3 linked regions of the Homo sapiens genome follow. The protein of the gene in region 2 purifies or fractionates together with the protein of the main gene of each other region. This does not show direct contact. Each region holds a gene or a part of one and is shown on either strand. Other genes may lie near its edges. The genes, in order: CGN, DAB2IP and ANKS1A.

Evidence for each region.
Region 1: the proteins of DAB2IP (region 2) and CGN purify together in Homo sapiens (affinity purification with mass spectrometry; 2 studies listed by BioGRID and IntAct, with this or other methods). This does not show direct contact.
Region 3: the proteins of DAB2IP (region 2) and ANKS1A purify together in Homo sapiens (affinity purification with mass spectrometry; 2 studies listed by BioGRID and IntAct, with this or other methods). This does not show direct contact.

The regions. Positions count from the first base shown.
Region 1 is NC_000001.11:151,519,940-151,530,176, reverse strand, and holds part of CGN (cingulin), read right to left. Parts: intron 10,012-10,237; coding exon 9,911-10,011; intron 9,764-9,910; coding exon 9,694-9,763; intron 9,582-9,693; coding exon 9,486-9,581; intron 6,744-9,485; coding exon 6,616-6,743; intron 5,952-6,615; coding exon 5,819-5,951; intron 5,504-5,818; coding exon 5,291-5,503; intron 4,536-5,290; coding exon 4,387-4,535; intron 3,203-4,386; coding exon 3,070-3,202; intron 2,347-3,069; exon of another isoform or gene 2,239-2,346; intron 828-2,238; coding exon 618-827; exon of another isoform or gene 613-617; intron 269-612; coding exon 62-268; intron 1-61. UniProt on the Homo sapiens protein: Probably plays a role in the formation and regulation of the tight junction (TJ) paracellular permeability barrier.
Region 2 is NC_000009.12:121,645,221-121,656,222, reverse strand, and holds the start of DAB2IP (disabled homolog 2-interacting protein), read right to left. Parts: upstream 4,590-11,002; 5' UTR 4,448-4,589; coding exon 4,324-4,447; intron 1-4,323. UniProt on the Homo sapiens protein: Functions as a scaffold protein implicated in the regulation of a large spectrum of both general and specialized signaling pathways.
Region 3 is NC_000006.12:35,081,255-35,089,343, reverse strand, and holds part of ANKS1A (ankyrin repeat and SAM domain-containing protein 1A), read right to left. Parts: intron 6,654-8,089; coding exon 6,528-6,653; intron 6,190-6,527; coding exon 6,118-6,189; intron 5,928-6,117; coding exon 5,841-5,927; intron 5,227-5,840; coding exon of another isoform or gene 5,224-5,226; coding exon 5,086-5,223; intron 3,579-5,085; coding exon 3,408-3,578; intron 2,393-3,407; coding exon 2,295-2,392; coding exon of another isoform or gene 2,273-2,294; exon of another isoform or gene 745-2,272; intron 739-744; coding exon 735-738; 3' UTR 1-734. UniProt on the Homo sapiens protein: Regulator of different signaling pathways. Regulates EPHA8 receptor tyrosine kinase signaling to control cell migration and neurite retraction.

The sequences.
Region 1 (10,237 bases), on a different chromosome or scaffold from region 2:
TTAGCATAGGAGTATTTCACCAGGGCTGAGCAGAGAGGGCTGGGAGGGCAGAACCACTGACCTCCAGCCGCTGCAGCTTGTCCCGTAGTCGTGCCTCCACCGCTTCCCCACCATCCACCAGACCTCGAGTCTCCTTCAGCTGCTGCTCCAAACCCAGGATGCGCCGGCGGAATTCGTCATTTTCCTCCTGGGTCTCCCGAAGCGTCGTCTCCACTGCGGCCCGCCGCTGCCCCAGCACTGTTGCCTCTGCCTCGGCCACCATCTTAGCCTAAGGACGGTTCAGGGGGTGGCAGCTCAGACCCCAGGGCGTGGCAGCTCAGACCCCAGGGCTTGGGGCCATTGACCACACCCAGGAAAGCCATCCCAAAGACAGCCCATAAGAATGAGGCTTAAAGAGAGCAGCTGCCACCAGCCAGACGCTTCTCTGAGAATCCCACCCCTACACAGATACAGGTATCCTCCCCCTGCCAAATCCTGGCTTCTTTGAACCACATGCCTAGGACCCAGGAGCTGGTCAGTACATACCCATGACAGGTAACTTTCCACACCCTCTGGCTCCTCAGCCCTCCAGACACCCTCAGCCTCCACCTCCTAAGCCCTGTGCCCACTCCCCTTGCCTTGGAAGCCTCTTCACAGTCCTGTCGCAGTTGCTGGAGGGTCTTTTGTAGCTGGAGGTTCTGTTCTTCCAGCTCCCGACCTCGATCAGCCTCGACCCTCAGGACCGCCAGCTGCTTCTCCAACTCCCGGTCCCGGTGTCGCCCAGCCACCTCCTGGCTCTGCCGTTCTGCCTGCAGTTCCTTAAGCTCCTCCTGTGTCCGGAGCAGCTCCTGGAAGGAAACGGGAATGGTGATGGGGCACCCAGAGCCAGACTAAGATACCTGAATGTGGAGAAGCTGAAACTCTCATACACTGCCAAGGGAATAAAAACTGATGTGGCCACTTTGGAAAGTAGTTTGGCAGTTTCTCAAAAAGTTAAACACAGATTTACCATTTATATCACCAGCAATTCCACTCTTAGGTAACCCAAGAGAACCGAAAATATGTGTTCACAAAAAAACTTATACGCGAATGTTCATAGTAGCATTATTCATTATAGCCCAGATGGATACACAACCCAGATGTCCACGAATTGATGACTGGACTAAACACGGTATACCCACAGAGTGGAATGTTATTCAGCCATAAAAAGGAATGAAGTACTCATACTTGCTACCACATGGACAAACCTTGAAAACACTATGCTAGGTGAAAGAAGCCAGACCCTTAAGGCCCATATATTATAGGATTCAATTATATTAAATATCCAGAATAGGTAAATCCAGAGACAAAAAGTAGATTAGTGGTTGCCATTGGGTGGGGGGAATTATTGCTAATGGGTTTGGCGCCTTTGAGGGGGTAATGAAAATGTTCTGTAATTAAATAGTGATGATGGTTGTACAACTTTGTTAATATAATAAAAACCACTGGGGGCCAGGCGCCAGTGGCTCATGCCTGCAGTTTGGGAGGCTGAGGCGGGTGGATCACCTGAGGTCAGGAGTTCAAAACCAGCCTGGACAACATGGTGAAACCCTGTCTCTACCAAAAATACAAAAATTAGCCGGGCGTGGTGGTGTGTGCCTGTAATCCCAGCTGCTTGGGAAGCTGAGGCAGGAGAATGGCTTGAACCAGAAGGCAGAGGTTGCAGTGAGCCGAGATTGTGCCACTGCACTCCAGCTTGGGTAGCAGAGTAAGACTCCATCTCAAAAAGAAAAAAAAAACCCATTGGATTGTACACAAAGATGACTTTTATAGCATGTAAAATATAACTCCATAAAAAAAAAAATACCATGAAGGGAGAGTACATGAAGGTATGGCTAGTAAGGCTGGTTGTTTAAAAAAAATACAGTGTGAGGCTGGGTGCGGTGGCTCACGCCTGTAATCCCGGCACTTTGGGAGGCCAAGGAGGGCGGATCACAAGGTCAGGAGATCAAGACCAACCTGGTTAACACGGTGAAACCATGTTTCACGGTGAAACACTGAGTACGTGTATTTTTTTTGTAAAAATACAAAAAAAATTAGCCGGGCGTGGTGGTGGGCGCCTGTAGTCCCAGCAACTCGGGAGGCTGAGGCAGGAGAACGGCGTGAACCCAGGAGGCGGAGCTTGCAGTGAGCCGAGATCACGCCACTGCATTCCACCCTGGGTGACAGAGTGAGACTCCGTCTCAAAAAAAAAAAAAAAAAAAAAAATATATATATATATATAGTGTGGCCATGGGATCTCCAACTGCATGCAAGAGCAACCTGGAGAGACTTTGACAGAACAGGTCAGCACAATCCCTGCAGCTGCCACTTGTCTTTCGTGTGTGTGTGTGTGTGTGTGTGTGTGTGTATAAAACCAAAATGTGTGACACAATAAATGCTGGCACAGCTCTGATTTCTTTTAAAAAGAAAATTAAAATAGGAGTTCTGGTTCTAATTATTAGCTATTAGCTACTTCTGAAATTCAGAAAGTACCATAATTAGGCTAAAGGGTTATATAATATGTAGTGAATCTTCAATGTAATACCATATACTCTGCTATTTTTCTTTTGCTAATTAGTTTTGTTACATTAGTAACCAGGCCATGCCAACACAAGTATTCCAGTCCATGTGATGATATTTCTCAATGTAAATTAATAAACTGAAATTCTAATGGTAAACATTTTTTCATAAATGTAGTTAGAGACCCCTCTGAAAGACAAAGCAGCTTTTGCCATGCTGACCAAATTAGATTTCTGAGCCTGCAAAAATCATCCTGGAGTTTCACAAATCCACCTAAATGCTGCTACCCATGACGTCTCTTGGGAGTCGGCCAGCAGCCTCTGGCTATACCCCAACCTGGGTTCTGAGAGCACTTTCCATTAGAAACCTCTATGCTCAATGAGGAGACTGGTGCTGCTGTGCTGGAAAGAGATCAAGCTGAGCAGGCAGGATGAGGCCTGGAAACCAAGCACACAGGAGATAGCCCCACTAGCAAGAAGGCCCTCATGGAGAGGTAAGGCAGGTGTTCATCACCCCTACCTACCATTCTGCCCCCCAATTCCCAAATACCTTCTTGAGCACCTCAACCTGGCGAGTATCTCCAGCACTAGCTCGGGCCTGCTCTAATTCCCTCTGCAAGACCTCTATCTTCTCTCCAAGCTCCTCTTCCATCTCCTCCTTCTCCATTCGCAGCTGCAGGAGTCTGAGCCAGGCAAGGTGAAATAAAGGGGAAAGGGAACAGAGTAAGGCCACATGCCTGGGGGAGGTTAGCATGACAATAAAAGCCACCTCTCTGGAGGCCAACACGCTGGGCACCAACTCTCAAGAGGAAGGAAGGTGAACGTGGAAAAGAGCAGTTTGAGAAATGGGAGAGTAAGAGCATACCATAGATAGAAAGGAAGTGGGCCAGGCATGGTGGCTCATGCCTGTAATCCCAGCAATTTGGGAGGCCAAGGCAGATGGATCACTTGAGCCCAGGAGTTCAAGACCAGCCTGGGCAACATAATGAAACCCCGTCTCTACAAAAAATACAAAAATTAGCCAAGTGTGGTGGTGCATGCCTATAGTCCCACCTATTCGGGAGGCTGAGGTGGGAGGATGGCTTGAGCCCAGGAGGTGGAGGTTGCAGTGAGCCCAGACTGTGCCACTGCACTCCAGCCTGGGCAACAGAGCAAGACCCTGTCTCAAAAAAAAGAAGAAAGGGACTGGGTGCAGTGGCTCACGCCTGTAATCCCAGCGTTTTGGGGGGCCGAGGTGGGAGGATCACGAAGTCAGGAGTTCAAGACCAGCCTGGCCAATATGGTGAAACCCCGTCTCTACTAAAAATACAAAAAACCCAGGCCTAGTGGCAGGCGCCTATAATCCCAGCTACTCGGGAGGCTGAGGCAGGAGAATCGCTTGAACCCAGGAGGCGGAGGCTGCAGTGAGCCAAGACTGCACCACTGCACTCTAGCCTGGGCAACAGAGTGTGACTCCATCTCAAAAAAAAAAAAAAAGGAGAAAGGGGGCCAGGCGCAGCGGCTCACACCCGTAATCCCAGTGCTTTGGGAGGCAAGGTGGACAGATCACCTGAGGTCAGGAGTTCGAGACTGGCCTGGCCAACATGGTAAAACCTCATCTCTACTAAAAATACAAAAATTAGCTGGGCGTAGTGGCATGCGCCTGTAATCCCAGCTACTTGGGAGGCTGAGGCAGGAGAATCTGTTCAACTCAGGAGGCAGAGGTTGCAGTGAGCCAAGATCGTGCCATGACACTCCAGCCTGGGAAACAAGAGCGAAACTCTGTCCCAAAAAATAAATTAAAATTAAAATTAAAATTAAAAATTAAAAAAAAGAAAGGAAGTGGCATATGAATCATGGGTATTTCTGAGAGGGCCAATGTCCTTACTCCTGCTTGGTGGCTCTAAGATCCTCCTTGTTCTTCTGGAACATACTCTGCCAATGCCCTGTCTCCTCTGAAGTCTCCTCCAGCTCCCTCTGCAGCCCTCGCACAAGGGCTGACATCTTCTGCCTCTCGGCCTCCAGCACTGCATGGTCCTAGAGAAGGGGAGAGTTGGACACCAGAAGGCTCAGAGGGAAGAGGTCACTTCAAATCAAAGTGTGAGTGTGTACAAGGAAAGGCTTAGACCCAGAGGGCACCATGCCAGGTGCACCCCCTGACACTCTTGTGGTACCTGGTACAATGCTAGCAGAGATTCTCTCCTCAAGTCACAGTCCACCCCTCTATCATCTACAGGAAACCTCCCCAGTTATTTCCCCTTGGGACTTTTTATTTTTAGGGGGACAGAGTCTCGCTGTGTTGCCCAGGGTGAAGTGCAATGGCATGATCTCGGCTCACTGCAACCTCCGCTTCCTTGGTTCAAGCGATTCTCCTGCCTTAGCCTCCCAAGTAGCTAGGACTACAAGTACGCATCACTACACCCAGCTAAGTTTTTGTATTTTTGGCAGAGATGGGGTTTCTCCATGTTACCCAGGCTGGTCTCTAACTTCCTGAGCTCAAGCAGTCCACCCGCCTCAGCCTCCCAAAGTGCTGGGATTACATGCATGAGCTACCGCACCCAGTCCCCCTTGGGACTTTTGTCACACAACCTCAAGGTACTTCTGGCCTGTACTCCCTCCCTCTGCCCCTATAGTTTTCCTGCCCAAGGTTTTCAGCAGATCTCACTGTGTCCTTTAGGAGGAGAGGGGGAGTTCCCAGTTGCAACCATGAAAAGTCCAAAAGTCCAAGATCCCAAGGCAGCCTTGTTCTCCAGCAGTGCCCTCCTCTCTCAGACCCTGCTCTTGTCACATGCCTGGGTTGCATCTTGCATGCTCCTGCGGAGCTGCTCTGTGTCTCGCTGGTACTGCTGCCGGACATGTTCCACCTCCTGGTCACGGGAGGCTACCTCCTCTTTCAGGGCCCCCTTCAGGGCTGTCAACTCCCGCTCCCGCAGCCTCAGCTGCTCCTCTACTCGCTGTTTCCCCTCCAAGACCTCTTCCAGAAGTTCCCGGGTCTCTAACAGGTCCTGGAGAAAATAAAGGAAGAAGTACAGGGGTGACCATATTAGAATCCATCTGTTTATCAATTCACTGAGTCAAAAAATATTTATCGTATTAGGCACAGTACCAGGTGCTCTAGTACCAGTACTGGAGCCCAGAATGATAGGTTTCCTTTATCCTAACTCTAGTCCCAACACACCATTGAATCTACCTGAAAGCACACTGAGTACCTGTAATCAGCCACCCACTCCTCATACTTTGGGGAAACCATGGATGAGCAGACTTGAGGATGCTCCAACTGAGAAAAAGCAGAGGCTGGGGCATATGACCCCAGACCCTACCTTCAGTAACACCTCCTTAGCAGGCTCAGGACCCTGGACATGTTTCAGCTTGTTCTGCAGCTCCATCACCTGGGTCTCCAGCCCATGTCGTAAATCTTCACCCTGGTCCAAGAGGCGCTTCATGTTCTGGAGCCTAATAATAGATAACATTATTGCACACTATGTGTCAGGCAGTTCTCTAAACGCATCATATATTTTAATTCATATTTATTAATGCATTTAAACTTCCTTCCTTCAAATCTTGATGAGGCCTCCCCTGATTTTTGCAACCTGCCCCGCTACAACCTGGCCCTCCTGATCTGCCTTACCCTGTTGTATTTACTGCCTTCTCGTGTGTTACAAATTTACTTGCAAAATATGTTTGTTTACTGTCTGTTCCCTCTCAGTAGAAACTAAGCTTCTGGAGAGCGAGCCCTTCATCTATAGGGTTCACTGATGTGTCTTGGGAACCTAGATTAATGCCTGTCACAGCATTCTTGATGAAACATCTGCTGAATGGATGACTGAATCCTTACAATGATCCTGTGAGGTAGGTACTATTATTAAGTCTATTTTATAGCTTAAGAATCTGAGACAGAGGCAAACCCAGGTAGCTTAACTCCAAATCATGCACTACCACCATTATTGATAAAGAAGGTAGAGAGAAAGGCCCTATCCTGTCCTTAAACCAACACTGCCCCTTTCAGCTTCTGGAGATTTCCTTCTGTCTCCTTCAACCCTAGGGGCAAAGAGGGAGTGGCCTCTAAACCTGGCCTAGGCCCCCAAGCAGCCCGAGGTGCGCCACCAGCTGCACTCACTCCTTGTTGCTCTGCTGGGCCTCCCCCTTCCTCCTCTCCAGCAGCTCCTGCAGTCGGCTGCACTCTTCTGTTTTCTCCTCCAGCTGCCGCTCCAGCCCAACTTGGGATGGCTCTAGCTTCTGCCGCTTCTGTAAAAGGGAATGAGAGTACAGCAGGTAGAGGGTAGGGAAAGCCTCTCAGAAAGACTCAGAATAATGGGAATGTCTAACACTCATTGGACACTTGCTGTATGATAGACACTATACTTAGGACCTTATGTGTATTATCCACATCTAATCCTCATAACTAGCCTTGGTACTTGTGATGATGTAAAATATGTTCACAAATTATCTGACATTTCTTTCAAAAGATAAAGCCTAATTCTGTTTGCCTCGAGCACGGGCTTGACTTAGGGGCTTCCTTCTAACAAACAGAAAAAGGAGGACGTGATGAGTAAATTCTGATGTTAGGTCATAAAAAGGCATTGCAGCTTTTCTCTTGGATCCCTCACTCTGGGAAAAAAATAGCTGTTATATTGTGAGGATACTCAAAAGTAGCTCTGTGAGGAAGGCCAAACAGCCAGGAACTGAGGTTTACAACCAACAGCCATTTGATTAAGCTGGGTTTTTATTATTTTTATTGATTTTTTTTTTTTCTTGGTGTTTTGTTTTGAGATGGAGTTTTGCTCTTGCCTAGGCTGGAGTGCAATGGCGAGATCTCAGCTCACCGCAACCTCCACCTCCCGGGTTCAAGCAATTCTCGTGCCTCAGCCTCCTAAGTAGCTGGGATTACAGGCATGCATCACCTCACCTGGCTAATTTTTGTATTATTAGTAGAGACAGGGTTTCTCCATGTTGGTCAGGCTGGTCTCAAACTCCCGACCTCAGGTAATCTGTCCACCTCAGCCTCCCACAGCGCCCGGCCTGGTTTTTTGTTTTTTTTGTTTGTTTGTTTTTTGAGATGGAGTCTCGCTCTGTTGCCCAAGCTGGAGTGCAGTGGCGCAATCTCGGCTCATGGCAACCTCTGCCTCCCAGGTTCAAGCAAGTCTCCCTGCCTCAGCCTCCCAAGCAGCAGGGATTACAGATGCCTGCCACCATGCCCAACTAATTTTTGTATTTTCAGTAGAGACAGGGTTTCACCATGTTGGCCAGGCTGGTCTCAAACTCCTGACCTCAGGTGATCCACCCACCTCAGCCTCCCAAAGGGCTGGGATTATGGGTGTGAGCCATTGCACCCAGCCAATTAAGCTGGTTTTGTCTATCTTATTCATTAAACTGGTTTTGTTTGCTTCATTCACTTATTTATATTTTTTTGAGACAGGGTCTTGCTCTGGCACCCAGGCTGGAGTGCAGCAGTGCAATCACAGCTCACTGCAGTCTTAACCTCCTGGGCTCAAAAAATCCTCCCACTTCAGTCTCCTAAGTAGCTGGAACTACAGGCACATGCCATCACATCTGGCTAATTTTTTGTAGAGGCGGGTTCTCACTATGTTGCCCAGGCTGGTCTCAAACTCCTGGGTTCAAGTGGTCCTCCCACCTTGCCCTCCCAAAGTGCTGGGATTATAGGCGTAAGCCACCATGCCTGGCCCTGAGTAAGCCATTTTAGAAGCAGATCCTCCAATTTACTTCTTTTGGCCACAGCCAGAAGCTGGACTGGAACCTTATAACAGGCTCAGAGCCACAATTACCCTGTTAAGCTGATCCCAGGTTCTTCATCCTCAGACTCTGGGAAATGCTTTTTTTTTGAGAAAGAGTTTCACTCTTGTTGCCCAGGCTGGAGTGCAATGGCAGGATCTCAGCTCACCACAACCTCCACCTCCCGGGTGCAAGTAATTCTCCTGCCTCAGCCTCCCAAGTAGCTGGGATTACAGGCATGTGCCACCATACCAGGCTAATTTTGTATTTTTAGTAGAGACAGGATTTCTCCATGTTGGTCAGGCTGGTCTCAAACTCCCAACCTCAGGTGATCTGCCTGCCTCAGCCTCCCAAAGGATTACAGGTGTGAGCCACTGCGCCCGGCTGGGAAATGTTTGTTTAAAGCTATTGAGTTTTGGGTAATTTGTTACACAGCAATAGTTAATTAATATAGTACTATCATAATCCCCACTTTACAATTTAGGAAACAGAGGCTTAGAACATTTAAAGAACTTGCCCAAGGTCAGTTACACAGCCAACAAGTAACAGAACCAGGATTTGAACCCAGTTAGTTTGGCTCCACAGCCAATCACTTAATCATTACACTACAGTGATTTCCAAAAGACAAGGGAAGTTACAATCCAACATTTATTGAGCACCAACTACACACAAACCAATATGATGAAAGGCAGAAGACATGTTTTTAAAAAGGGTACACTGGCTTTAGAATAAGACTGACCCGGATTTTTTCATTCCTCTCTGCAACTTACTACCATAGGCAATTTACTTAGCCTCTCTGATCTTCAGTTTTCTCATCAGAAAAGGGTCCAGAATAGGTATTCACAGGGTAACTATAATGATTACAGTACCCAGGACAGTACATACTACCAAAATTATACTCAATAAATGATAGCTACTACTATTGCCATTATTATGATAATGATAAAAAAAAATTGAGGCACAGAGAATGTAAGTAATTTTCTTAAGTTTTATATAGCTAGTAAGGGGCAGAGCCAGGATGGGAACTCCCAAAGGGAGTGGAATGGAAGGTAGGTAGATTCCTAATGTGCTCTGCCTCCCTAACCCCCACAGAACCCCAGAAGTCCTTCCTGGAATTAGTACACATTCTTGTCTCTTGTCTCATAAGACACAAACATGCTTGTTCCATTGCTTAGAAGGGTCAGCTCAGCCCATCTCCAGGCCAAGGCTTTTTCCCTGTTTTCCTTCATGCCTCCGGCACCTCTAACCTTTCCTTACCTTCACCTCTTCATCCAGCTTTCGCTGTAGCTCCTCCACTTTTCGGGTAAGCTCACCCTGCCCTGCCACGGCCTTAGTAGAACCAGAAGAAACCATCTGCCAGAGATATGGGGGGTGTGGGGGAAGGGAGTGAGTCCAAGTCTGGATCCCCTGAGGCCCTCAAAGCTCTAACCTTGACCCTTGCTCCCATCCAGAGAAGGCCACTCACCACTAGAGGCTGCATCTTCTCCAGCACCAAACTAACCTTCCTCCTCACAGAGGTTTCACTTTCTGAGCTTCTAGAGGATAAAAGGATAGAAGCAAGGGTTAGGGGAGGAAAGAGGTAGCAGAGATCAGGAAAGGGTAAAATCAGGGAAGATGGGAAACAAAGCTAGAAGAAAAAGAAGGAGGGGTATGCCTCTGTTGTTGGGGGGGCCCCCACTCACCCCTCCCTCAGGATGCCATAGATGGTGGCCTTCATATGGTCCACACTGCCTGGTGGGGCTGCCTCCTGCTGGTCTCGAAGGAGGTCTGGAGTTGATTTGAACTGTTAAAAAAAAAGAAAAAGAAAAAAAAAAGAAAGAAAGAAAGAAATAGGAAGATTAGGCCAGAAGCATGCGTGGGGTTCAGATGGAGGAGAAGTGGCAGTCTCAGGTCAAGTCCCTTCAAGCATGATGAACAATCCTGAAATGCAGCAAGGAAAACATGCTGTGGAGGCCTGAGCAACAGGCCAGGGAGAGGCCAACACAGGATGCACCTCTGCACTGTTGCTG
Region 2 (11,002 bases):
CAGCCTGACCAACATGGAGAAACCCCGTCTCTACTGAAAATACAAAATTAGCCGGGTGTGGTGGTGCATGCCTGTAATCCCAGCTACTCGGGAGGCTGAGGCAGGAGAATCGCTTGAACCCGGGAGGCAGAGGTTGCGGTGAGCTGAGATCGCGCCATTGCACTCCAGCCTGGGTAACAAAAGCAAAACTCCGTCTCAAAAAAAAAAAAAGCCAGGGTCCCCTGAGAAGTTACCCACCCCCCATGGTGGCACACAGGTCCTTACCTAACTGTTCTCTTGGTTAGGAACCAGTTGTATGAAACCATCCTCTCCCACCACGCGGGCAAGATACAGAGGCATGCAAGAGGGGTGTGTACAGGCACGGAGGAGGACCTGACCATCTCAAGAGAAAAACATCTGCAAAACCCCCAGCTCCCAGCCAGGGCCTGGCAGGTGGCTGGACCCCTAGAAAAACTCAGATGAAAACATGAACAACATAATCAAAACCCCTCATGGCTATGGGTATAGGCATTCCAAGAGGCAGGAGAGCAAGATTAACCCCCCTCGACAGATGGGGAAACTGAGGCCCTATGATGTGCCCAGTCATGCAACCAGTCCGCGGCTGAGCTGGAACTACAGCCCCTGCCTCCCACTAACCACTGCTCTGTCCCCTAGAAAGAGACTTGTGCCCTAGTGCACCCCAACAAGCTGGCCTCCCCAACAGACTGGGGGCTTGGCAAGGGCTGGGAGCACATGTGATTCATCTCCATGTGCCCCTGCACCCAAGCTGAAGCCCAGCACATAGTAGGTGCTTAAGAGGAGCTGACTGGCTGAATGAATGGGTCAGAACTTTATCCAGGGCTAGAGGAAAATTTCTGTTTCTCCTAGCAGCCCTGGGGAAACACAGGGGTCAGAGACAAAACTTTTCTTGATTTTGGTGTGACTAGGTGGGGAGGCACCTTGCTGATGATACCCTTCTGGGGAAAGGATCCCCCCAAATCCATGGGACATGCCCAGCCTTCAAGTGGAGTTAGGGACACAGTGGGAAAATGCAAATGGCCCTCACCCTCCGAAGGTCACTGTTTCTACCCCACCTCCAGCTACCCTCCAGCTTCGTGCTCTACCCCCCACCACAGCAGGTCTCACTCTGCCCATCCTTCAGATGGGGAAACTGAAGCCCAGAAAAGGGAAGAACCTAAGTCCCTTATTGGTCAAACTAGGGAGACTGCAGATACTGTCCCTCACTCACAGCCCTACCAGGGACAAAGCCCTGCTCCCTTCCCCCAGCCTGGCCACCTGCAGAACCTGGCAGCAACCAACTCTTCCTTGCATTTTTCTGTTTCTGAACAAATACACAGCCTGAGTTCTTGGTCATTTTCCTTCCCTGCTAGTGCCAGAGGCCAGAAAGGGTGTGGGGGCAAGAGTCTGATCCAGGCTGAGATGCTAGGCACCACCCACTCCTCTGAGGTCCGATGCTACCACACCATGGGACCAAGCCCCCATGTGGATGGGGAGGCTGAAGTTCAAGGTCAGAAGGGACTGGCTCAAAGGCCACAGGGTGGCTTCCTCAGCCTGAGTTTCTCCCTGGGTGGGGCCCTGCCCTCAGGTGGTGGTTGTGGCTCTGGGGTAGAGTCAGGCGTCTGAGGCTTTAGTGGAGGGAGGGCAATGGCTGCCCTAGCTGCCTCCCACCAAGGAGGAGGAGGACAGGGTGCCTCCAGCCTCCACCCTACACCCTGGCTGCAGCTGTAACTAACTCCTCATCACTCCAGGCCTTCTTTTTTTAAAAAAACAAACAAACAAACAAACAAAAACAATATTGAGACAGGGTCTTGCTATGTTGCCCAGGCTGGTCTTGAACTCCTGGGCTCAAGGATTCCTCCTGCCTTGGCCTCCCAAAGTTCAAGGCCCTTTATCAAATCCAAACTACTGTTGCCTGCTCTTCCCCACCCACTCACCCAGCCCCCTTCCCAATCCACTCCCCTCCCCAAACCCAGGAGGAACTCTATTCTCAATACCCAAGCCGTTTTCCTTCTCCCTGACTGCGCAGTCTGTTCATTCTGTCCAGAGAGAAGACAGTAGCTCACCCTCAGCTGCAGCCTTAGTCCCAGGCACTGGCTTCTGGCCCTCACATGACCCTGTCACTGCTAGCCCCATTGACCACACAAGGTCACTGAGGCTTGGAGAGGTAACTGGCTGTAGAATAGTTGTGTGCACAGCTGAGACTTGAACCCAGATCTGACTCAATTACTCCCTCTGCGAAGGGAAACCCTATCCATTTTGTGAGATCCCATCCAAATGTCACCTCCTCTGTGAAGCTCTCCCTGATCTCCCCAGATATAACTTCTGTTCAGAGACAGTCTCCTCCCCGCTCTGCAGGCCGTGAGCTCCTTCAAGCTGGGACACAAGCAGTGATCCTGTGTATGTGGGGTCTGGGAGCTGGGGCTCAGGTGACAGCCCCTGACACATTGATTATCCCCTGCCTGGTCAGCTGAGCAGGAGGTCAGCTGAACAGGAGCGAGACTCCCATTACAGTCAGGGATGGAACTGGGCTGAGGTGAGAAGAGGAAAAGGTCACACAGGGCATTTCTGAGGCAAAGGAGGGGCGGGTGGGTGAGGTGACGTGAGGTGGGTGCAGAAGGAGAGGCCCCAGGGTGGTCTGAACAGTACTGGGCATTTTCAAAGCTCCCATTTCTCAGTTTCTTCACTGAATCCTCCACATACGGCAGGTCCATTTTACAACCAGGAAAACTAAGCTCAGAAAGGGGAAATGACTTGCCCAAAGTCACAAAGCTTGAGCCCAGATTCCCGGTCTCCCAGACCAAGTCCAGGGGAAGGGAGTAAGTACAGAATTAACAGTACTAAGCCTTTCTCCAGGTCTTAGCAAGTACAGAATTAAATAGAAGGACAGAGATAGAAGAACCAAAACCTGAACCACTGAGATAAAGCCTTCCCCAGGTCTTTAGTACTCCCTCCAAGGAGTACTAAAGGCTTAGTACTCCCTCCAAGGAGTACTAAAGGCTTAGTACTCCCTCCAAGGAGTACTAAAGGCTTAGTACTCCCTCCAAGGAGTACTAAAGGCTTAGTACTGTTAATTCTGTACTTACTAAGTAACTTAGTACTGTTAATTCTGTACTTACTAAGACTTCAGGAAAGGCAGGAGTGGGGGGATTGCAGGCTTTGAGAGACCCTTGAGGACTGAACTACCAGCACACACCTGTGCACACACTTAGCCTCAGCTTGAACCCTTCTGTGCACAGGGAACTCACTACTTCCTGAGGAAGCCCTGGACTGCACAGTGCTACTCAGACCTGACTGTGGGAAAAGTCTTCCCCATTCTGGTGGAAGCAACCGAACACTACCTGCCTGCTTCATTTACCCTCACACCGACAAGAAAACTGAAGTTCAGAGGCAGCTCAGCCCAGGTCACACAACGGCAGCCTGCAGGGTGGGAATGTGGCCCCTCTTGGTCTACCAGATTCCCTGCATGGCATTTGTTGGCACAGGGCCCGGCTTCCCACTTTCAAGATAACCTGATGGTGTCAACTCGGCCCAGGTCCCTGCTAAGGCGCCGTCTTTCTCCTCCCTTCCACCCCACGGGCACCCTCGGTGGGCCTGAACCTCTGCCTAGGACTCCAGCCTCCCCAGAGCCCCTTTGAAGGCCTCCTCCTCCCAGGGGCTTCCCTCCCTCCTACTCAGCCAGGGAAGGAAGTCCCGGCCACCACCCGCCCAAACGCAGCCCCCGGGATCACACGCATTTCCAGCCGAGGATCCTGTTACTGGAAAAAGAAAATGCTGCTCGCACCTCCCCCTCCGTCTCGTCCTGCCTCCTGAGCTTGATGGAGAGAAACTTTGCAAAGGAGCTGGCGCCCACCCGCTCGAGGGGTCACGGTTCCTTCCCTGAGGTCCACCCACTTGTCCTAGCACCCAAGAGGTGGGGAGCCCGTTAAGTTCCTGGAAAGGGAAGAAAGAAGTCCGCGGCCTGGGCTGGGAAGGCAAGGTGTGGGAAAGCTCAGATCCACCCTGGGTTACTTTATTGCCCGGCTGCTGAGTAAACTGAGGCACAGTGGGGTAGGAGGTCTGATCTGAGATGCGGAGAAAGATTCCAGGCTCCCCTCTCCCTGTCCCTGGCTTAAGAGGAGACCCTAGAGCCTCGGCTTCCCCCGGCGAGAGGAGGACTAAGCAGAAGCTGGGGGAATGGGGGGTCCGGCAGACTCAGGAAGGGGCGGATGAGGAAACCCCCGGCAAATGGCTGGAAGGAGGATCCCGGTCCCTAGCATCCCAGGGCATCAGGTGGCTTAGTGGCCTTAGGAGGGTCTAGGGGTCAGGGGTCGGGGTGGCGCCTACCCCTGGCAGGCCGGGTCCGGCTGCGGGAGCGGCTCCTCTGTCGCTGCAGCCGGGGCCGCCTCAGCAGCCGGTAGTAGTAGGAGGACCTCCCGGTGCTCTTCCTGGCGCTGCCGCCCGCGGACATGCTGCCGCCCGCCGGGCACCGGGCCGGGCCTGGGCGCGCTCACACGGGCCCCATCGGCCGCTCCGGACAGCCCGGCGGGCGCCCACGCGTTCTCCCGCGCTCGCCCGAGCGGCCGCCGAGGCCCTGGCTGCCCCACAAAGTCGCTCAAACTCCTCCTCCGCCTCCTGCCCCCTCCCGCTCCCCGAGCAGCCGGCCCCGCGGCGGGGGCTGGGGACCCGGAGGCCGGGCTGGCACCGGCCCGGAAAGTCAGTGCGGGAGAAATCCCGGCCTGGAATCGGCGGGGCGAGGCGGCCCGGAGTTTCCCCGGGACCCCAGACGGGTCGTCCCGAGGGTTCTGGCTCCCACCCCCGCCCCCGAGGGTTCGACCGTCGACCTGAGGGCGCACCAGGCACCCAATCCCGCCAGCGCGGGTAGACGGTGCACACCTGCTTGTGCGCTCTCCGGAGCCCGGGGTAGGACGCATGCTTGGGGACGGTCACCTTCAATTAGGGTCCGTTCCTGCCCCAGGCTCGCTGGGCTGAGAAACGACCCTCACTGCTCCGCAGGCCCTGGCCCAGCCAGGTTGAAAGACTCCCCTGTGATGCAGGATACTTGCCTCTTCTTTACGTTTTAAAGGTTGTCCCGTCTGATACACGTATCATTTTTATGTAATTAAAATTACGGTGTCTGTTTCAAGCACTCAAAGCACTGAAGGCAGGGCAGAACAATCCCTACCCTACCGTAGGCACCAGAAACTCAGGGTGGCAGAAGGAAAGGTACCAACTCCCTCTATTGCATTGGCTGAAAAACTTTCTCCAAGTCACTCCTCAGCTCAAGAGCTTTCCGTGGCTCCCCAGAGCACAATGGCAATACGTCTAAACATCCTTGTTATTTGGACCCCAAATAATCTTGCCCCAACCAAAGTCCCCTCCAGCCTCACCTCTGCTCCCCCTAATTCTCACTTCTCTTTGCTGTGCTGCCAGCAGGGACTGCCTTCTTGGCTATTTTCTCCACCCGACCAAAGTCCACCCTTTCAGGACCCAGCTCCTCCACCCTTCCCTAACCATGGCCCACAGTGATCTCTCTCTCTCCCCGCCCCTTATCTCTTTAGCAATATTCGTCGTTTAAATTATTAAGACACCTGCCTGAGCTGCCTCCTTTGAAGTACAGAGGGGGAAACTGAGGCCTTGGCAAGGAGGTCTTGCCTCAGTCACATGGAAAGTGGCAGAGGCAAGTGGTCTTAGCCTGGGGCTCTCAACATTCAGACTTAGGGGTGGGGGGTGTGAGTCACCGCAAGTGCCTGAGGCCGGCTAGGGGATCTTCCTCCAGAACAGTGGGGAAGGTGGGGCCCTGGAGTGGGCGGGGCCGTCTGGGCAGAAATCCAGGCCGGGTTTTGCACCTCACAGGGGAAGCCCCCTCCCTAGCGCTCTCAGCCAGCGGGGAGGGTCCCTAGTCCTGCGGAGCCTGTCTCACAGCTGGAAGCCAGGCGCCTTCCCTGACCAGGGGGGAGGGGCAGGAGGGGTGTTACTCCAGCAAACTCAGTCTGAGGAGTCCAGAGCTATCAGCTGCCCTGGTCCCCTCTTCCCTGAATACTGGCCAATCCCACAGGAAGATGGAAAACCAGGGTGCCCAAGAGGACACCCTTAGCCTCCTTTGGGTTAGGCCAGGGGTGCCCAATCTTTTGGCTTCCCTGGGCCACACTGGAAGAAGAAGAATTGTCAGGCCACACATAAAATATACTCACACTAACCATAGCTGATGAGCTAAAACAAACAAACAAACAAAAAAACCACACACACAAAAAAACCTCATCATGCTTTAAGAAAGTTTATGAATTTGTGTTGGGCAGCATTCAAAGCCATCCTGGGCCACATGCAGCCGGTAGGCTGCAGGTCAGACAAGCTTGGAGGCATTGCCCTATCTCCTTTCAACAGCAGACATGGTGCAGGAACGTCTCTAAAAAGAAGCCCCTGGACAGAGCGCACACACAGTCACTCAGTCCCCAGGCAAGCTGGGGGCCTTGTTAGCATGCATCCTCCTCTGGCCAAACTGCCAGAACCCAGTTCAGTGCCTCCTCACGTAGGTGGGGTTCTGAGCACCACCTGTCCACATCTTGGCACTTCCAGGCATGACTAACCTCCGTAGCCAGGTCCACGGGTTCTGGGGGTGAGGGACTCCCAGGAAGTCCTACTCAGGACGGGGGCAACGGTCCTGCTCCCAGGGCCTGAGTTCATCTGGCCCATTTTGTTTCCCAAAGCAGGAACCCTCTGATCAGCCAGGTTCCAGCCCTCCCTGGAGGGGACGGGAGGCTCACAATCAACTCACTGTTATCAGTGGTGTGGGCAAGTGGTCTTAGCCTGGGCCCCCAACAGGAAGTCTGAGGAGTGTGTGTGGAGGGGAGAGGGGGCAGTAACTTGGAACTCAGGACCTCATCTGTAAGCACAGCTGGGCTCCAAAGGTCTGGCATGGTCTCCCCACTTCAGCTTTTCAAGTCCTTCTCTGTGCCTTAGTTTCCCTACCTATAGGGAGAACGTATGGACCCCCAATCCATCTGCCTTGTGGAGGAAGGAGGGTCAGCTAGTGAAATGGAGGAAGCTTGTGCATTTCTACCCTTGGGATGGGAATGGGCATCGCCAACCAGCTGAGCCGAGCATCTCCACGGGCCTGGGGCAGGTACTCTCCGGGTACTGAGTGGGAAGGGGGCAGGGCAGGAGCTAGGAGAGAAAGAGCCCAGGCTCCTTTTCCTTCTTCCTGGCCCAGGAACAGGGCAGTTAAAGGCCGCTCCCTGTACAGCCCAGCAGGGGACCTGGAATCAATCCTGCTGGGAAACTGGCCCCCCATCTGCTCCCACCTCCCGCCGGCGCCCCTGTGGCTTTCTCTCTCTGAACAGGAGAAGCCCTGCTTCCAGTGCCCACCACCACCATTGCTACCACTGCTTCCTGTGACAGACCAACAGATCGGACTTTCCAGCCCTGCCAACATGAGAGCCTCAGTACCTACAGGGCTAAAGGTCTGGTCTTATTCTCCCACCTCCAGAGGGGCTCCTGAATAGGCCCAGCTCCCACCTCTCCCATGTGCTGCTTTAGCGGGGACAGGGCTGCAGCCCCCAAATCACCTTCACTCAGTGAACAGGCATATTTCTGAGTTTCCCTCAAGACGCTCAATTCAGTGGGTCTGGATGGGGCCTGGAAACATGCAAGTTTAGTAAGTAGGGGTGTGGGTACTAGGACTGGCTAAATCAGATCTGACCTAACCCCACCACCAGCACCTTTACCCTCCCCTCAAAAGCCTCCCAAGGCGAACTCTCAGAGACCAAGCTGTGTCAAAAAGCGACCACCTCCCGCTTGCACCCCAACCCATTTCAGCCCCCTTGGTCATCCTCCAGACACTCTTTCCCACCACCAGTCTTCGCCCTGTTGGTGGGACCTGGACCGCTGCCACCAAGGTCTTCCCTCTGCACCCACCTGGTGCATTCCTGCTTACCCTTCAGGACCCAGCTCAAGCATCCCCTCAGTTTTTTATTTTTTAAATTTTTTATTTCCATAGGTTTTTGGGGAACAGTTGGCATTTGGTTACATGAGTAAGTTCTTCAGTGGTGATTTGTGAGATTTTGGTGCACCCATATCCCGAGCAGTAACTTGGGATACACTAAACCCAATTTGTAGTCTTTTATCCTTCACCCCCTTTCCACCCGTTCCCTGAGTCCCCAAAGTCCATTGTGTCATTTTTCTGCCTTTGCATCCTCATAGCTTAGCTCCCACTTATGAGTGAGAATATATGATGTTTGGTTTTCCTTTCCTGAGTTACTTCACTTAGAATAATATTCTCCAATTCCCATCCAGGTTTCTGGGAATGCCATTAATTCATTCCTTTGTATGGCGGAGTAGTATTCCATCATATATATACATATATACCCGTATATATATATAATACGTATATGTATGTATATATATAATATATATGTATATGTATGTATATATATGTGTATATATGGGTATATATACGTATATATGTGTGTTTATGTATATATATGTGTGTGTATATATACATTTTTGCAATTGCAAATTGAAGCACCCCCTCCTTAAAAAAGTCTACTCTGACTCCAAGGAGAGACACCCCCCTCCTGGCTCCTGGTATACCCCACTAGTCAGTTTGAATAATGGGGACACAGGAGGCTACTTGTGAAGACCAGGGAGGGATGGACCCAAAAAATTCCCCTCTAGGCAGAAAACCATCAGCATCCCTGCTGGAAAAGAAGCAGTGGGTAGCATCAGAGCTGGGCTGAAAGTCCAGGTACATCATGGGCCAGGCCAGGGTGGGTCAGCAGGGGCACCAGATGCAGGGGAGGGAGGCTAGCCCAAGGCAGTCTTGAGTCCCTCTGCGGTGTCAGGGTTGAAGTCAGTGAGAAAAGAGAGAAAAAAAAGCATATTGCCAAAATTACCTTTGAAAAGCCTTAAATTGCCCATAAAGCATAGTGTTTCCTCCAATCTTAAGACAGATCACCCATTTCTGCAGCTAAGCACAAAACAGAAGAGCACAGCCTTCATTGATGGGCCATTCTGTACAGGGGGGATGATAACAGCAACCACAACCAGTTATCTTCAAACACCAGCCTCCCCCAGGGAAGGGGAGATGCTCATGCGTGGGGCACCACAGAAACCCAAGGCTTCTTAACAGAGGAGGGTTACAAGTTTGACCTCAAGAGGTTTGTTTGAGGGTGGAGTTTGGGTTTAATCCTAATCATGGTAGCTGAACTGCATCTAGCATGCACTGTCCCAGATCCTGTTCTCAGCATTCTACCCACATCATCTCATTTAATTTCAGAATAATCCTAGGAGGCAGATGGTTATTTCTTTTTCCAGAAGAAATGTCAAGAGGCAGAGAGAGGGTAGGTGAGTTCCCTAAAGTCACAGGGCTTGCACTAGGAGGCAGGATTTGAACCCAGGGGGCTGAAAGGAGCAACGATCATAAGGTTGAGCAGTACGGAATGCAGAGACGGGGGAGTGGAAACAGTCTAGAACTTTCTTTAATAGCCAGCTTTGTCAAGGGACAGGAGGAGGCTAGGGGCGACAGGAGTCCTGACAGGGGAAGCATCGGAGCCCACACTAGGCCCCACACAATGGGTGTCTGGAAGGCTCAGACCTGTCAGGTTTCCTGTTGGGATGAGGGTGGGTGGTGGTGACCGGGGAAGTCCCCAGCCAGGCAGGCCTGCACACATCCGCCTCCCAGGACAGTCTCAACCTTTCAGTCTCTGGAGCTCTGGGCAGGGGTGGGGGTGGGGGGGACAGAGGGTCGGGGTGGGGGGGGTGGCGGGACACTTGTGGTTAAGGTCATGGCCTCTGCCCCAGGAGGTGGCCTGTCTGGCAGGCAATGACGACTTCCTGCATCCACTGTTCATCCGGGAATAAGGCTGGACCAGGAGCAGGATCTTCACTAGGAAGATGGGGGAGGCTGGGGCCAGGTCACCCCATTCAGGGAAAAGCATAGACAAGCCCCAAGAGGTCACACTAAAGCACTCCAGGCTAGCCAGGCGACCACCACTGCCACCGCCCCCCAGACTTCCTCCCAAAAGCCACCGATATATTTAATGACATCGTTTGCAGAAAACGGTGCAGTCAGGGACAAGATGACCCCAGGCTTGGATGGCTCTGCCCCTCTCAACACAGGCGGAAGTGGGGGACCAGTCAAGCGTGGACATTTGAACACACAGAGACAGAGCCTCGGGGAGTGTGAGTGTTTTTCCAATCAAGTCACCCAGGGCTGGGCCGAGGGCAGAGCCCTCGGGACAGGCCGGAACTCTAAGAGGGGGTCACCGTGTGATACCTCTGGGTCTCAGGTTTCCACGTGTTAAATGGAGATGAGACAGCTCTGTTCAGCTCACCTCCCAGAGATTCCATCAGGATCTAAAAATCTCCCCATTCCCCAAAGGGCCACCTACAGGTCCCCTCCAGTCCTCCAGAAGCCCAGAGAAGAGGACATGCACGTCTCCCTCGTACACGTCGACAGCCTGTCATAAAGCCCCGGAATGTCCGAGGTAGAAGGAACCTTGAGAGAAACTGATGAACGGGGGAAGCTGAGGCCCTCAAAATCAGCTGCTTACCCAGAGGACCCTCCCTAACCCATGGCAAACTGGGATCTGGCATCAACTCTGCAATCACTGAGGGTCTGGTTGGCTCTCTCATCCCAGCACAGAGCAGTCAGGGTGGGGCAGCATCCCTTCCTGAAGATGGGGAAGTGAGACCAAGGGAGGGAGCGACTCACCCAAGGTCACATGGGGCTGGGGATTAGGGTGGGTTCCACCTTGGAACCCAAATACAGCCGCCAAGACCACCTCTCTCCGTCGAGAGCCTGGACCACCTCTCCCAGAATGCCTGCTGCCTTCTGCCCACAGGAGCCCTGGGCTTCCCCTCCATACTGGCTGCCCTGAAGTTGAGGGCTCCAATCCTGTGGCCCAGGGGAGACTAATCCACTCTCCAGGCCCCAGCCCCAGCCCTCCTTCCTCACCCCAACCCTAGCAGCCGGCATTTCAGCCCAGATGGCCAAGCCTGGAGCCACTCTCTCTGTGTACTTCCTCTC
Region 3 (8,089 bases), on a different chromosome or scaffold from region 2:
ACTTCCCAGCACTAGAAACTGCACACTTATCTTCATTTGGCCACTGAACCTTCCCATCGGGAACCCCAGAAATGGACCGGAAACCTTTGAGTTGCTCAGGTGCCTCTAAGGCTGTGTTCTTACGAGAAGCCTGTGTCTAGCCCCTGAAAGGGACAGGAAGTTGGGCAGTTCATAAAGAGCAGCAGCTGATATGGTTGGGTTTGAAAAGCAGACGCACCGTACTCAATTCTGCCTGAGCCTGCTCCGTTCCCCTCACCCACAGGCCACCGCCTTCTCTTCCGACCCACTGAGCTGCACCCAAGTTCCGTCCTGAGGACAGAGGCTATGCAGGCTGGCCTCTGAACCAACCTCAGCTCCCCTGTCCTCTGCCCCATGGCCATTTGTCTAAAGATTGGCAGTATGACCTAGAGGTTTGAGCCAAGTGTTAAAAGTTCATTTTATAAAAAGATTTTTTTTCTGTTAAAAACAATGTGTTCTGAACAAGTCACTTCTTGACCCTCTGGAATGCCAGTCCCATCTGCTAGCGGCCTGGAGTGCTTCTCCACAGCCAAGGCAGGGCTCGTTCTGCAGGACGTGGTGGTGGCAGGCCCAGGCCAAGTGGCCAAGAGGAGGTCCTGCAGGCGGAGGTGAGGCCTGGGTCTTCAGAGCTGCAGGTGAGGCGATGGCGGTGGTGGCAGTGGGAGCCTATGCCCCCACGTCTATGTTTCCGCAGCACAGTGTGGTTCCTCAGTGGCTCAGCTTGGCAGAAGCAAACAATGGGGGGAGGAAAGGGTTAACCAATGGGGCCTGCGGACGGTGGAGGAAATGGAAAGGAAACACAGAGCAGGACAGACGATCCCTCACAGCCTCCCCGGGGCACCCTCCATGCCTGCTTTGAGCACCCACAGCCTGCAGCCCCCACTGCCTCTGGCTCAGTGACTCTGCTCAGGAAGGCACAAGGATGGGTGGGTACGCAGGACCCACCCAGTTTATCGACTTGGGTTTTGACTGCCCTGGCCGACTGGCTTTCCTAGTGGACTCTGCTATGTGTGCACGGCTGCCTATGGGCGCCGCTTCCTTCCTGTCTCCTGCCATCCAAACTGATTTGCCCACACTGGAGAATGGGGTGCCTCTTCAAAGACTCAGCTCCACCATCCCAGCTTCTGAGCTGCTGCGATGGGACGGCCTCTCCTTTCGGAGGAGTCAGGAGGCTGAGGGAGGTGGTCAGGGGCATGCTGGACGGCGCTGTCTATCTGTGATCCCCCACCGTGGAGAGTGTCAGAAAGCTCCCAGAGGACAATGGAGGCCACTTGGTCCAGGTCCCTGTCCTCCAGCAGCTCTGTTCTGTGAGGGAAGAAGGTGCGCCGTGTGTGCAGGGCACAGGCCGCCTCCTCGTTGGTTCTACGGAAGGCCTTCCTCCTCAGTGAGCTAGACTCCAGAGCCAGGCCCAAGGCTGCCAGGCCTTGAGACTCCATGGCGAAGATAGAGGGGCTGTCCACACACATGCCACCCACCTCCTTGGAGGGGAAGGCCCATCAGGACTGAGACACCTGCTGTGTGAGCCAGCCTGTGAGTGTTCAGATACCCAGAGCCCCAAGTGGGGCAGTCAGCACGGACCCAAGGGCCTGGCGCATATCTTGGGCCCTCACAGAAAGCAGTCTGTCCCTGGTCCAGCCACATCACTGAGCTCAAGGTCTCACAAGGGCCTAGCCATGAGAGTGAGGCCAGCACCTCGGAGTAGCGGAGGACAGTGGGGTGGGGCTGCAGGCCGGCTGTGAGCAGAGTGCTGGGGACTCTGGCACTGGGTGGTCACAGTGGTTGGTTGGTTCAGGAGAGGTGAGAACAGTCAGCTAGCTCTTGGCAACGGTGCCCAGCTGTGGCTCAGTACAGCAGACAGGAGGAGGGAGCCACACAGAGCCCAGCCCAACCCTGGGGAGCTATCAGTGCCGTTGGGATCCTGCTGGAGACTGCCCTGCCCGTCGGGGTTCACAGTGCCTGCCCGTGGAGGCTTCCAGGGTGCAACAGAACCCCTGAGCCCTCTTGATGCCCACCTCAAAGGCAACTCACCCCCTCAAGCTGTCCTCAGCCCAAGGGGGAGAATTCACAGTGTTCGGTGGTGGTAGGTGCGAGAGCTGCAAGTGTACAGCGTCTACGCTGCCGCCCGCCCAAGAGGAGCAGGTCCCAGTGCAGGTGGGGCCTTGGCATCAGCAGCTGGAAGGAGAGAGTTGAGGACAGCAGAAAGATCGGATGGCAAAGGCACAGTGAGACTAGTGGAGACAGGGAGTGGGTTGTTTTAGAAGATAGTGGTCTCATACTTGGTGCTGAGGCTCCGCTTAGAGTCTGGTTTGGGGTCCACAACCCAGGAGACACTGGCATGGGATTGGGCATCTTGGTCCATATCAGGTGGTTCCAGCTGCCAAACAAGGAAGCAGTCAAGAGTCAGAGGGAGCTCTGTGCCAGGGCTGGAGGCAGCAGGCCCCTCCCACCCCCAGGCCAGGCTGTGGCCCCTGTGCTGGGAGGGGCAGCCCTTATTCTCCTCGGCCAAAGAGCAGGCCCCTGGGGGCAGGCGGAGGAGGGACACCCTCCTGGAGCATCTTGGGGAGGGCCACCTCCAGGCACAGCTTCTCTCCGGGATTTCTTGGGATTGCTCAGTTAAAGGACCCCTGTCCTAGGCGGGCCTCCTGCTCTAAGCCCCAGACCCACTCACACTGGGCAGGAAGGGGATATGGGGCTTGCAAATGTCCAGCCTCGGGTCTCTCTGGTAGGCCCAGAGAGCTCACCCCAAGGCAAGACCACAGCAGTCACCCCAGACCTCTGGAGAGAGGACACACAACAGAAAAACAGAGAGGGCTGAAGCACACACAGAACAGGCAGAGGGCATCTCAGGAAGAGGGGAAAGAATGTCACACAGGCAGAGGGAGAGGCCGCCAGAGGCTAAGAGCGCTCACGGTCACTTCGGGGAGACTGACACACAAGACAGCAGGAGGCGTAAAGACCTTGACTCCAGGACTAACAGATGGCAGCGGTAGGTAGGAAGGACGGTGGGTGGTGCAGGTGTGACAGTAACAACAGCGACTATCGGGGGGCAGCGGCACCTGGGGTGCAGAGCAAAGCAGACACAGACACAGGGATGGCGCAGTTACTGGGGGCTGCCTGCAGGCCGCTCTCTGCAGCCCCTTGACGGCCTTGCCCTTGGGGGAGCCCAGCGAGGGAGGGAAACAGGAGCATGAGAGGCCCGCCCAGGCCAGAGGAGCTGCTGCCTTTCCAGGGGCGAGACCTGGCAGGGTTGGGGGACAATTAAGAGGGTCATTTCCCTGGAGGGCCAGCTTTCTGGAAGTGCCAGAAGACCCTCCTCACGCTGACCACCCTGAGCCCTTGAATCCCTGGGGCCAGGGAGAGGGGGATCTTGGCCAGTGGGGCCCACGTACTGCGGATTTCCTCACGCCGACCCGAGGCTTAGGCACCGGTTTGGAAGATTTTGTTTCAATCATCTCAGCTGCAGAGGCGCCCGTCGCCCTGGACTTCTGGGCCTGCAGGGCCAACTGATAGGCCACTTCGAAGGCCTGCCCCAGCGTCAGGATGATCTCGTAGGTCAGGTTCTGGGAGGAAGCAGATCACCACTTAAGCACCTGGTTCAGGAGCCGCTTCACACTGGATATGCCCTTCCTCGCAGGGACCATGTGTCCCCCTCTAAGTCTACCCGGGAGCGCTCCTACCTCCTTCCACTCTTCCCTCCTTTCCCTCCTTTACTCTTCCTAGGTCTCTGTTGTTCTTCCCGCTCTACACAGGATGTGGCCGGGAGCTGGGCTGCGGGGAGGGCAGGTGCACACTGCTGTAAGCCTACGGCAGGTCTTTTCCAAGGCAGGGTGCCGTGCCTGCAGCAGTACTTGGGTATTTCTTACCATTTAATGTAAGTGGTGCTAGTGCTTTTATTTTTAATGTGTCACCGACAAAGTCTGTGAGTGCTGTGCCCCTAACTCCATTTCCCCATAAACCCTGTGGTTTTCCTTGTGTGATTTTACACAGCACAGTGATTGTTAGGAGCGTATGTGTGGCGTTACAGCAGAACTGAGTGTATGTGGGAAAAGTCAGCAACAGGTAAATGCCACTGACTGTGCTGTGTGGACCACCTCATCCATCTCACAGTGGCCCCTGAGGTGGGCCACATTATATCCCCTCCAGACAGATGAGGAAGCAGGCAGATGCGATGTTTCCAAGCTCACACAGCCAGCAAGCAGCAAAGCCTGGTTCCTCCTAACCTTCACTGGCCCAGAGCAAACAGAGGACTGGGGTGGATGAGGTCCCAGGAGTGTGGGGATGCCCAGAGCTGCCTGTATTCCAGGAGCCACAGAGATTCTGGAAGCAGCTGCTATCCCTGAGGGCGGCAGAGACCTGGACCCCTCTGACTTCCTCCCGGGGTGAGGAAGCAGCCTGGGGCCACTCTCATGCTTTGTTGCAGGTTAGAGGGAACCCCCGCCTGTGGGCTGTCAGTTCTGGTCTGCTCCCTGTGGGCAGCTGTGTGAGAATGAACTCTCCTCGGCCCAGTGGCATCCAGAGCCGAGCCTCAGCAGGAATTTGAGGGAAGAAAATCTGCCAAAGAGGGCACCACTGCCCCTAAGAGGGAAGTAGAGGGCATTTCTGGGAGGCGGCCCAGCCAGAGGTTGGAGACCTAGGGCAGGGAGCCGGGGGAAACAAAGGCCTTGCCTGACCTAAGAAAACACTCGCCAAAAAGCTGGAAAGTCAGGGGCGGTGGCTCACGCCTATTATCCAGTTACGTGGGAGGCTGAGGTGGGTAACTTGCCTGAACCCAGGAGTGCAAGGCAAGCCTGGGCAACATAGTGAGACTCCATCTCTTAAAAAAAAAAAAAAAAAGCTGGAACCTCCTGTCCCTAGTGCCCTGGGCCAGTCCCTGTTCCCTCTGCGCGTCAGTCTCATCACTGTGAAAGGGGACCGGCCTGAGTGCTGCTGGGCTCCATTCATGAACCAAACATTTGCCAGGCACTGGCCAGGGGCCAGGACAGCGCCGCATCTGTGCCCTGCAATGGGGCTGGACGCCTCAGGGCTGCAACCCAAGCCTGCCCCACCCGGCCCCAGGACCCCACCCACCACATCCACGGTGCTGAACACATGGCAATAGTGGTGGCTGGTCTGCAGGTCCTTGGTGATGTAGGCAAAGGTACAGAGGTCCTCCGGGTCCTGGGCCGCACAGGAAATGTTCCGGATCTCGTGCTCTGCAATGACGTTCTGCTGGGGAAAGCCGTGTTCTGGAATTCTCAGGCTCAGGCATGCCTCTGGCACCCCCTGCCCCAGCCTGTTACCATTGTCACTGTTCTCTGTCCCAGCCTAGAGCATCAAGCAAACCCCCCTTCATCTTCTCATTTTGTTTATTGGTGGGGGTGGGGGTCCCCGATTTTGGTTTGGGGTCTCCACCCCTTACCACAACAACTAAGGCAGTAAAATGTTCACACCCAACCACAAGCTCTCCCCAGCCCCTCCCACCTTCCAGGGTGGGGGCAAAGTGGGAAGGGTGTCAGGAAGGTGGGATCCCACACGGTGGCACACAGAGAAAGTCCTTTGCTCACGGAGGGAATCACACCTGTGAGCAGGTGTGCGGCCAGTGGAGCCCAGGTGGCGAGGCTAACAGCAGTGATCACTAGGGCGGGGACGGGGCTGACAGCAGGCACCCAGGCCAGCAGATGAGAGACACGCCTCTTAGCAAAGTGGGAAGTAATAAGAGGACTGGGGACCCTCTAGGGAGATAAGAGATGAGACAGGGCAGCCGGGTTGCTTGCCCTGGAGCCCTGTGGGTCTGACGGGGATGTGGGTCCCACTCCCACCAAGAGTCCCTGTAAGCAGCACACCTTGTTGGAGGCATCGATGAACTTGACACCTTTGTATGTGATGGACAGGATGATGGTGGGGATCTTCTTCATGTGCTCCGTAGATTTCTACAGGAAACAAGGGGTGGCCCTGTCAGTGCCCCTTCTCAGGGCTAAGCCTCCTGGGCTTCCACAGGTCCCAGCTTCCTTCCCATCCTTACATAGTGCAGCAGGGCCCAGGCAACTGCAGCTACTGCCCCCATTGCTGCCTTCTGCTGGCCAGTCCCACAGCGCCCTCCAGCCCACACAGGCACCCTACCCGCATCTTGGCACAGGCGTCTTGCGTGGATTCTGTCCCTCGCAGATCTTTGATCAGCATGGAGCCCAGATACTGTGGGGGCGAGCAGTGGCCAGGCTTAGGAAATCCTGCGTTTCCATGCAGGGGTGACCCAACCAATTTGGGACTGTCCCACAATCAAGTAGTTACCCCTCTCAATAACAACACCCCCTCTCCTGCCCCAGCTGGAGAGACCCTCCATTCAACTCCCTAGCTAAAGGATCCAGAGGCCTCCACCCCTTCGCCTTAGCTGTCAAGAGTGGCTGAGAGTGGAGAACAGCTCAAAAGCCCTGGGCCTGGCTTTGTGGAGTCCCTGCTGGGACTTGGCCGCAGGTGCCTGGCCGAGAAGGAGCAGGGAGGCCGGCCCTGCTGGGAGGGTGGGAGCAACTCACATTGGCTTCATAACCACAGGACTCGAAGATGAGTTTCTCTGGCTGGTGTTGCCAACTCTGCACTGGGGCGTAGGGGGCTGCCAGGCTCGGGGGCCGCAGGGTCAGCTTGGCCTCACGGTGCTCCTCCTGCGAAACACACGCAATTGGACACCTGCTCCTTGCTCCAGAGGAGCACATGGGCTTGCTGCCTGGCTCCAGCACACTCAAGGGTGAAGATGCCAGTGACCTTAGCAAGTTCAAGGGTCGAGTGGAGATGGCAGGGGGCAGACCAGCAATTCAAACACACTGCGGGAGAGGGGAGGTGCTAGCCACAGCAGAGGCACAGCAGGGACCCAAACCGCCTGAGAGCAGGGCTTGGGAAGGACAGTCTCTGTGGTGTCCGAGATGAGTCTCAAAGGAGATGGGAAATGACCAGAGAGGAGATGGCAGAGTCTGTGTGGGGGGCACAGGCTGCCAGGCTGTTCTGCACAAAGACCAAAGGAGAGAACAGCGCCCACGAGACCCTGGGACGCCTTGGGACCCAGCCCAGGGCCTGGGAGGGATCTTCACAGCGGGGAAGCCAGTGAAGCACCCGCCCGTGCCTAGGAATGCATTCCAAATGGATCCTTCTGGCAGCAGCTAGGGGGTGGGGGAGGCCACTGCGGTCCAGGTGAGAGATCATGGGTCCCTGTCCAGGGCACTGGTGGAAGGAATGGAGAGGAAGGAAAAGATTCAGGAAACACGGAGGCCCTCCCTTCCCAGCAGTGCGCAGAGCCTCTCAACAGCAACCGGAATTGCTGGACAATGTGTTTAAAAATCCTTTAAAACTCATGGCTGTGCTTGTAGAAAGGGAAAGGAAGTCCCCAGAGCCAGAAGTGAGAAGTGAGAGTCAGAGAAACAAGCAGGGGTGAAGCTGAAGTTCACCCGGAGGGGCCTGAGGGACACCTGCTAATCCTGTGTCTGACAGGCCAAGAAGAGGACAAAGGACAAAGCCAAGGTCCGTACAAGGAGGGAGGCAGGACAGGCAGGTCCTGAGTAAATCCAGGACCCCTGGAAATGATGCCCTGAGAAGGTGAGCCAGGAGTGTGAGACGGGCCCACCTCCGCCAGGGCTGGAGCGGGCACCGGGAGCGGAGGAGGCGTCTCCAGCGGTGCCCCCCACGGGGCTGCAGGCAGAGAACAGGAAGAACAGAATCTGGTCTGGCTGTGGTTTTGCTGAGCAGGAGGAAGAGAATGCTGCCGAGGTGAAGCTGCAGGGAAAGCAGTTCTGGGGAACAACGTGGGTAAGCAGAGAAGGAAGGGGCCAAGAAGGAGCTCAGAGGCCAGGAGAGCACAGAGGGCTCTGGGGCCAGCAGGGGAGGCAGTGCAGGACGCAAGAGGCCACAGAGAAAGAGCGGACAGGGGATCTGAACCCCTGAGGGAGGGAAGTACAGGACACAGGAGTGGCCCCAGCAGCTGACAGCTAAAGTGAGTTGTGCGGCCCGAGCTCGGCACCATGGGTGCTGGGTGGGCCTTACGCAAGGCGGCTGGGTGTGGGCGAGCAGAGCAGGCTAGTGCCTCCTGACTCTGGTGCCAGCCCAACTG